2 linked regions of the Homo sapiens genome follow. The protein of the gene in region 1 interacts with the protein of each later gene in a biochemical or structural test. Each region holds a gene or a part of one and is shown on either strand. Other genes may lie near its edges.

Evidence for each region. The genes of interacting proteins can lie anywhere in the genome.
Region 2: the proteins of SPN (region 1) and MSN form a complex in vitro, tested with the Homo sapiens proteins (2 studies listed by BioGRID).

What each region holds. Positions count from the first base shown.
Region 1 is NC_000016.10:29,668,995-29,671,482, reverse strand, and holds the end of SPN (leukosialin precursor), read right to left. Parts: 3' UTR 607-2,488; downstream 1-606. UniProt on the Homo sapiens protein: Predominant cell surface sialoprotein of leukocytes which regulates multiple T-cell functions, including T-cell activation, proliferation, differentiation, trafficking and migration.
Region 2 is NC_000023.11:65,729,988-65,733,752, reverse strand, and holds part of MSN (moesin), read right to left. Parts: intron 2,647-3,765; coding exon 2,563-2,646; intron 1,916-2,562; coding exon 1,769-1,915; intron 570-1,768; coding exon 473-569; intron 1-472. UniProt on the Homo sapiens protein: Ezrin-radixin-moesin (ERM) family protein that connects the actin cytoskeleton to the plasma membrane and thereby regulates the structure and function of specific domains of the cell cortex.

The sequences.
Region 1 (2,488 bases):
TTGGCACCTGGAGAGCAGGAATGGGGAAAGAGTGGGGCTGCACGGTGGTCCTAAGGCGTTTTGCCTGGGCCACCAGAACGATGCTACTCACCACTCTGGGGACTAGAAGAGAGGAGAAGAGCAGACTTAGGTGTGTTGATTTCACCACTACTTCCAGAATGCAATTCAAACTCTCAGCAGAGCACTATGGCTCACGCAGAGCACTGTGGCTCACGCCTGTAATCCCAGCACTTTGGGAGGCCGAGGCAGGTGGATCACGAGGTCAGGAGATCGAGACCATCCTGGCTAACATGGTGAAACCCTGTCTCTCCTAAAAATACAAAAAAATTAGCCTGGTGTGGTGGCGGGCGCGTGTGGTTCCAGCTACTCAGGAGGCTGAGGCAGGAGAATGGCATGAACCCGTGCCACTGCACTCCAGCCTGGGTGACAGGGTGAGACTCCGTCTCAAAAAACAAAAACAAAAACAAAAACAAACCTCAGAACTCAATTCAAACTCTTGAACTTTTCATAGCATGGCTCCAACCTCCACTTGCAGCCTCATCCCCTACCACTCTCCTCAAACCAGACACCCCCAGGCCACCCCCTTGAACACCTTTTTGACCACTATTTTTTCATATTGTAAAAGTAACAGATATTTATTGTATGAAATTCGGAAAATACAGAAGAGCATAAACAAAATAAAAATCACACATAAACTCACCACTTTGGAGATCAGCATGGAAAACATTTGCGATGGGTCCTTTGTTTCCCTATAAGTGCATATATGGTTGGGAATTTTTATTACAAAACTAAAATCATATGTATTACAGAGGAGTAACTTGCTTTTTTCCCCACTTAACATTATATTGCTGGTATTTTCCAAAGTCATTACATAATTTTCAAAAACATGATTTTTACTGACTATAAGTTCAATAAGCCATTTACAATTATTTTCATAACTAATATATTTAATCTTATACCATATTTTATATTTTCTTTTTTTAAATTTTTTTCCAAGACGGAGTCTTGCTCTGTCGCCCAGACTAGAGTGCAATGACACGATCTCGGCTCACTGCAACCTCTGCCTCCCGGTTTCAAGCAATTCTTCTGCCTCAGACCCCCAAGTAGCTGGGATTACGGGGGCATGCCACCACGCCTGGCTAATTTTTGTATTTTTAGTAGAGACAGGGTTTCACCATGTTGGCCAGGCTGGTTTCAAACTGGCCTCATGATCTGACTGCCTCGGCCTCCCAAAGTGCTGGGATTACAGGTGTGAGCCACCACGCCTGGCCATGTTCTTTCTTTTGAGACAGAGTCTCACACTATTGCCCAGGCTGGAGTGCAGTGGCATGATCACAGCTCACTATAGCCTCAAACTCCTGGGCTCAAGCAATCTTCCCTGCCTTCGCCTCTTGAGTAGCTGGTACCACAGGCGCACACCACTACACCTGGCTAATTTTTCATATTTCAAATTTTTTGTAGAGATAGGGGTCTATGTTGCCCAGGCTGGTCTCCAACTCCTGACCTCAGGTGATCTGCCCGCCTCAGCCTCCTATAGTGCCACCGCATAGCCACTGCACCCAACTATTTTCTTACTGTTCCTTGCTCTATCTCCTTTTTTTTTTTTGAGATGGAGTTTTTTACTTGTCGCCCAGGCTGGAGTGCAATGGCGTGATCTCGGCTCACTGCAACCTCCACCTCCTGGGTTCAAGGGATTCTCCTGCCTCAGCCTCCCAAGTAGCTGGGATTACAGGTGCCCGCCACCACGCCCAGCTAATTTTTTGTATTTTGAAACAGGGTTTCACCATGTTGGTCAGGCTGGTCTTGAACTCCTGACCTCAGGTGATCCACCTGCCTCGGCCTCCCAAAGTGCTGGGATTACAGACGTTGAGCCACCACGTCTGGCCTGCTCTATCTCCTTTTTTTGTTTTCCTTTTTAGTCTTAAAATATCCACTGCTTCTTTTGCTTTGCTTTTTCCTCCAGAAAATTAAAAGACATCTATTGTCGGGCACGGTGGCTCACGCATGTAATCCCAGCACTTTGGGAGGCCGAGGCATACGGATCAGCAGAGGTCGGGAGTTCAAGACCAGCTTGACCAACATGGTGAAACCCCATCTCTACTAAAAATACAAAATTATCCGGGTTTGGTGGTGCATGCCTGTAATCCCAGCTACCTGGGAGGCTGAGGCAGGAGAATTGTTTGAACCCAGGAGGCGGAGGTTCTGGTGAGCCAAGATCACGCCATTGCACTCCAGCCTGGGTAACAAGAGTGAAAACTCCATCTCAAAAAAAAAAAAAAGACATCTATTTCACGTTTGTTCAAAAAAGACTCTATATTGAACTGCTCCACTTTAAAAAATATATATATAAATGTTTACTTTTTGTAGACACGGGGTCTCACTATGTTGCCCAGGCTGGTCTCAAACTCCTGGCTTCAAGCAGTCCTCCTGCCTCAGCTTCTCAAGTAGCTGGTACTACAGGCATGCACCACCACGCCTGGCTAATTTT
Region 2 (3,765 bases), on another chromosome or scaffold:
GATTGCACCACTGCACTCCAGCCTGGGCAACAGAGCGAGACTCCATCAAAAAAAAGAAAGAGAGAGAGAGAGAGAGGAAGGAAGGAAGGAATCAAATATGTGAACAGTGTCCACTTTCTGGGACCCAGGGGCTTGGAAATATGAGATGCATTCGGTTTCCACCCCAGAACCTCAGGGCAGCAGAGGCAATGGCTAAGAAGCAGTTCTTAACACTGCCTGTGGCTCTCCCACATCCACAGTGAGAGAGACAGGTAGCAGAGTAGAACCAGGTACAGGATGTCTGCTGGCCATTTCTTGGCATCAACATCCCCCTCCATTCCCAATCTCTATTTGTGCTTCCTGTTCGTGCACATGCGCGCACACACGTACACACAAACACATCAGAAAAGGAAGAGAAAAATAGAATAGCATGATTGCTCATTATGCAGGCCTTGGCAAGTACCTGTCTTGGTCAGAGGGAGGAATCACTCACCGGGGCTTTTTTGTCAATGGGCTTGATGACAAATTTCTTATCATTGAAAGAGATGTTCCTGATTTCACTCCAGGGGAAGCCTATCTTGGGAGTTAGTCTGTAGAAATAGAAACCAATAACATCAGGACAAGGGCAAGACAAGAAGGGTGTAGAGAACTGGGGGCTTGCCCTCACTGTCACCTCCAAGCTTCTATGTCTCTCTCTCTCTTTTTTTTTTTTTAAAATAAATAGAGACGAGGTCTCACTATGTTACCCAGGTTGGTCTTGAACTCTTGGGCTTGAGCAATCTTCCCTCCTCAGCCTCCCAAAGTGCTGGGATTACAGGCGTGAGCCACTGAGCCTGGCCAAACAAACACTTCTCTCTGGAGGAGGTAGACTCAGTGACAGCTCAGCCAGTGTCATCACACGCCACCAGGTCAGCTGCCAGCATTGAGAGTTCACTAAAGATCTCCTGATAGTACAACTAACATATGATTCCTTGTCTCAAGTTTGTTTTGTTATGTATTTGTTTGAGGCATGGAACTTGTAACAGTTCCTCAAGGGAATCCCCAGCCCTATTTAACTGAGTCTCTTCTATCCAAGCTTACAAAAGTTTGAGAGAAAGTAAATAATGAACTCCAAGATTCAGGAGTTATATGGAACAATAATTTATTGCTCTCCATCCTCACCAAGAGCACACCAAGTGAAAAATATAAGCAAGTGGGATAAGGCTACAGTGAGAGGATTATAGGCCAAAAGCCACTTAACCATCACAGGAGACTAATTACAAATGCTGATAAGATAGTCTAGGCCTGCACGATCCAATAAAAACATAATGACTGTCACATATATAATTTTAAGTTTTCTAGTAGCCACATGAAAATAAGTAAAAAGAAATGGATGTAATAAAATTATAGTAAGTTTAGTTAACCCAATATATCTAAAATATTATCATTTAAACATGTAAATAAATATTTTTTAAAATATTAAGACATTTTACGTTCTGTTTTTCACACTAAGTCTTCAAAGTCCAGTGTGTAGTTTACACTTACAGCAGCACATCTCAATTCAAAGTAGCCACATTTCAAGTGTTCAATAGCCCCATGTGGCTGGTGGCTACCATAGTTGACAGTGTGAGTCTAGTCAATACAGGATTTAGTATTGACTAAGGGAAGTTGTGAAATCATCTGGGCTGGACTAAATTAGGTAGAAAAAGAACTGAGATGGGACCCAAGAGATATGGCCCTGCTCCTTGGTGAAAAGTGAGCCCTAGATGTTAACGTGACCTAAATAAACTAAAAGAGATCTGAGATATACCTGTCATTCTGCTCATAGATGTTGAGACCCAGGGCATCCACCCCCAGCCACAGCTCTGAGCCTTTCTTGTTCTTGATGCTGAAGTAGTTCACACCATACATCTCCAGATCTTGAGCAATCTTCAGATATTCCAGGACAGCATCCTCCCTAAATGACACAGAGTTGGGGGTCACAAAGTGGGGCTTGTGAGTCAGACCCAAGGAGATAGAAAGCCTGCTTACTCTGTACTTCTGACAAGGATCTTGCTATCAGGAGTGGGAAAGGGGACAAAAGGCAAGCAGATGATGGAGAACAGAGCACAGCATGACTTTTGCAAAGCAAAATCTCCTAACAAAAACCTAGGGTCTAAGCTCCCAAGGGGAATAAAGATGGGCTGACCCTTGCTGGCCTCTGGCATGTTGGCTGCCATAGAAGCAATTTTCTTTCTCTCATTCATTGTGACAGCCTCTTATAAAGGCACATTCTTAGCAGGGCTCAGAATGTGGTGATGGCAAAATGATGATATTTGTCCTTCAACTACACAACCCTCAAAAATGCTTTGCCATGTGTAAGAGCTCCCTCCATTTCTTGATAGTCAAAACTGTTTGGGCTACCAGTTACCAGCATTCAGCAAAACAAACAAACAAGCAAACAAAAAACAGCCTTATAATGGTCCTAGTTTGCCTTCTATCGTCCCTGTTCCCTCTTTCTCCAACATCCACCAATGTCCCTTGTCATCAGTCTCTTCTCCCTAGAACGCATTCTCATTCACCCTGTAAGGGAAGTGGGGCCCACCACTGCTTGGGCAAGCTTACCTGAGCATGCCACGGTGTTCCTCATGCCACACCTGGATCCGCTCCTCCCACTGGTCCTTGTTGAGTTTGTGCTGTTCCAGGACTCTGGAAAGACAATGGGTGATGAGTAGTTTAAAGCACAAAGTCCCTGTGCAGGAGAGAAGGGAAGCCCATTTAGCTTTCTAAGGGGCTGATGCAAAGAGGATGTAGAGTCAGCCAATTGAGGTCACACTGGAAGCAGACCGAAATTATAGCAAGAAGGTGTTAAACTAGACACAAGGAATTGCCTGAAAGGTAAGAGAGCTACAAGAATGGATGATCAAAAACAACAAGGGGAACACCTTCCTTTGTACCTTCATCCACAAATCAAATGATGTGCTGTGGTCCCTAAGCATAGCAGTAATGTGTCAGGAGTTTGTGCTGACTTTAGGGGCTAACAGTAGGGATGGACCTCATGGAGTCAGGTACACTCTCTCCTAGATCCTCTTAGGACCAACACTCTATGTTTATAAGAATACTGCTCAGAAATGAAAGGATGGCCTTTGGCTACAGAGCAATGAACTGAGTCCTAATGGCTTTCAGAAAAACCAACAGGCCCAACCTCCAAGACCTACTAGATTATAAACAAGGTTTGCTTTAAACATGCCATCTCAGATATCATGGCAATGACTCAGGTAGAGTCCCCAGGGTACAAGCACTATCCCTAATATCTTATGGGTGTGTTGTACATATATGCCATAACTCCAATGGGACTGAGGCTCCCAGAATGAAGCAAAGCTTTTCCTTCTAATCCAAAAGACTATGGAAATGGCCATTGGGTATAGTAGGAAAAAACTTAGTGTTAAAATATTAAGGTGCTAAGCTTCCAGGTCTGGCTCTGGCTCTGCCTCAGATGAGCTGCACCAGATGGGGAAAGTCAGTGTGAGTACCTCTGCACCTCTATTTCCTTCGCCAGGAAATAAGGATATTGCCTGCTTTGTTCATTTTGTGTGTTATTGTGATACAAAAACAAAAATAATGAGTGTTTTAGAGCTTTTGACTTTGAAGTTTACAAAAGGGGAAAGCTCTGTACACTAGCTGTCAATATTAAAAGACTATTTGAGCTCCCCATGTCCTCGGTTTGCTTATTTCTCTCTCTCCCCTGTGAACTTCTGATATAAGAGATCTAAATCAGTAAAAAGAACTGAGAAAATGGAACCAGGGATGGGTGAAAGAAATTACTCA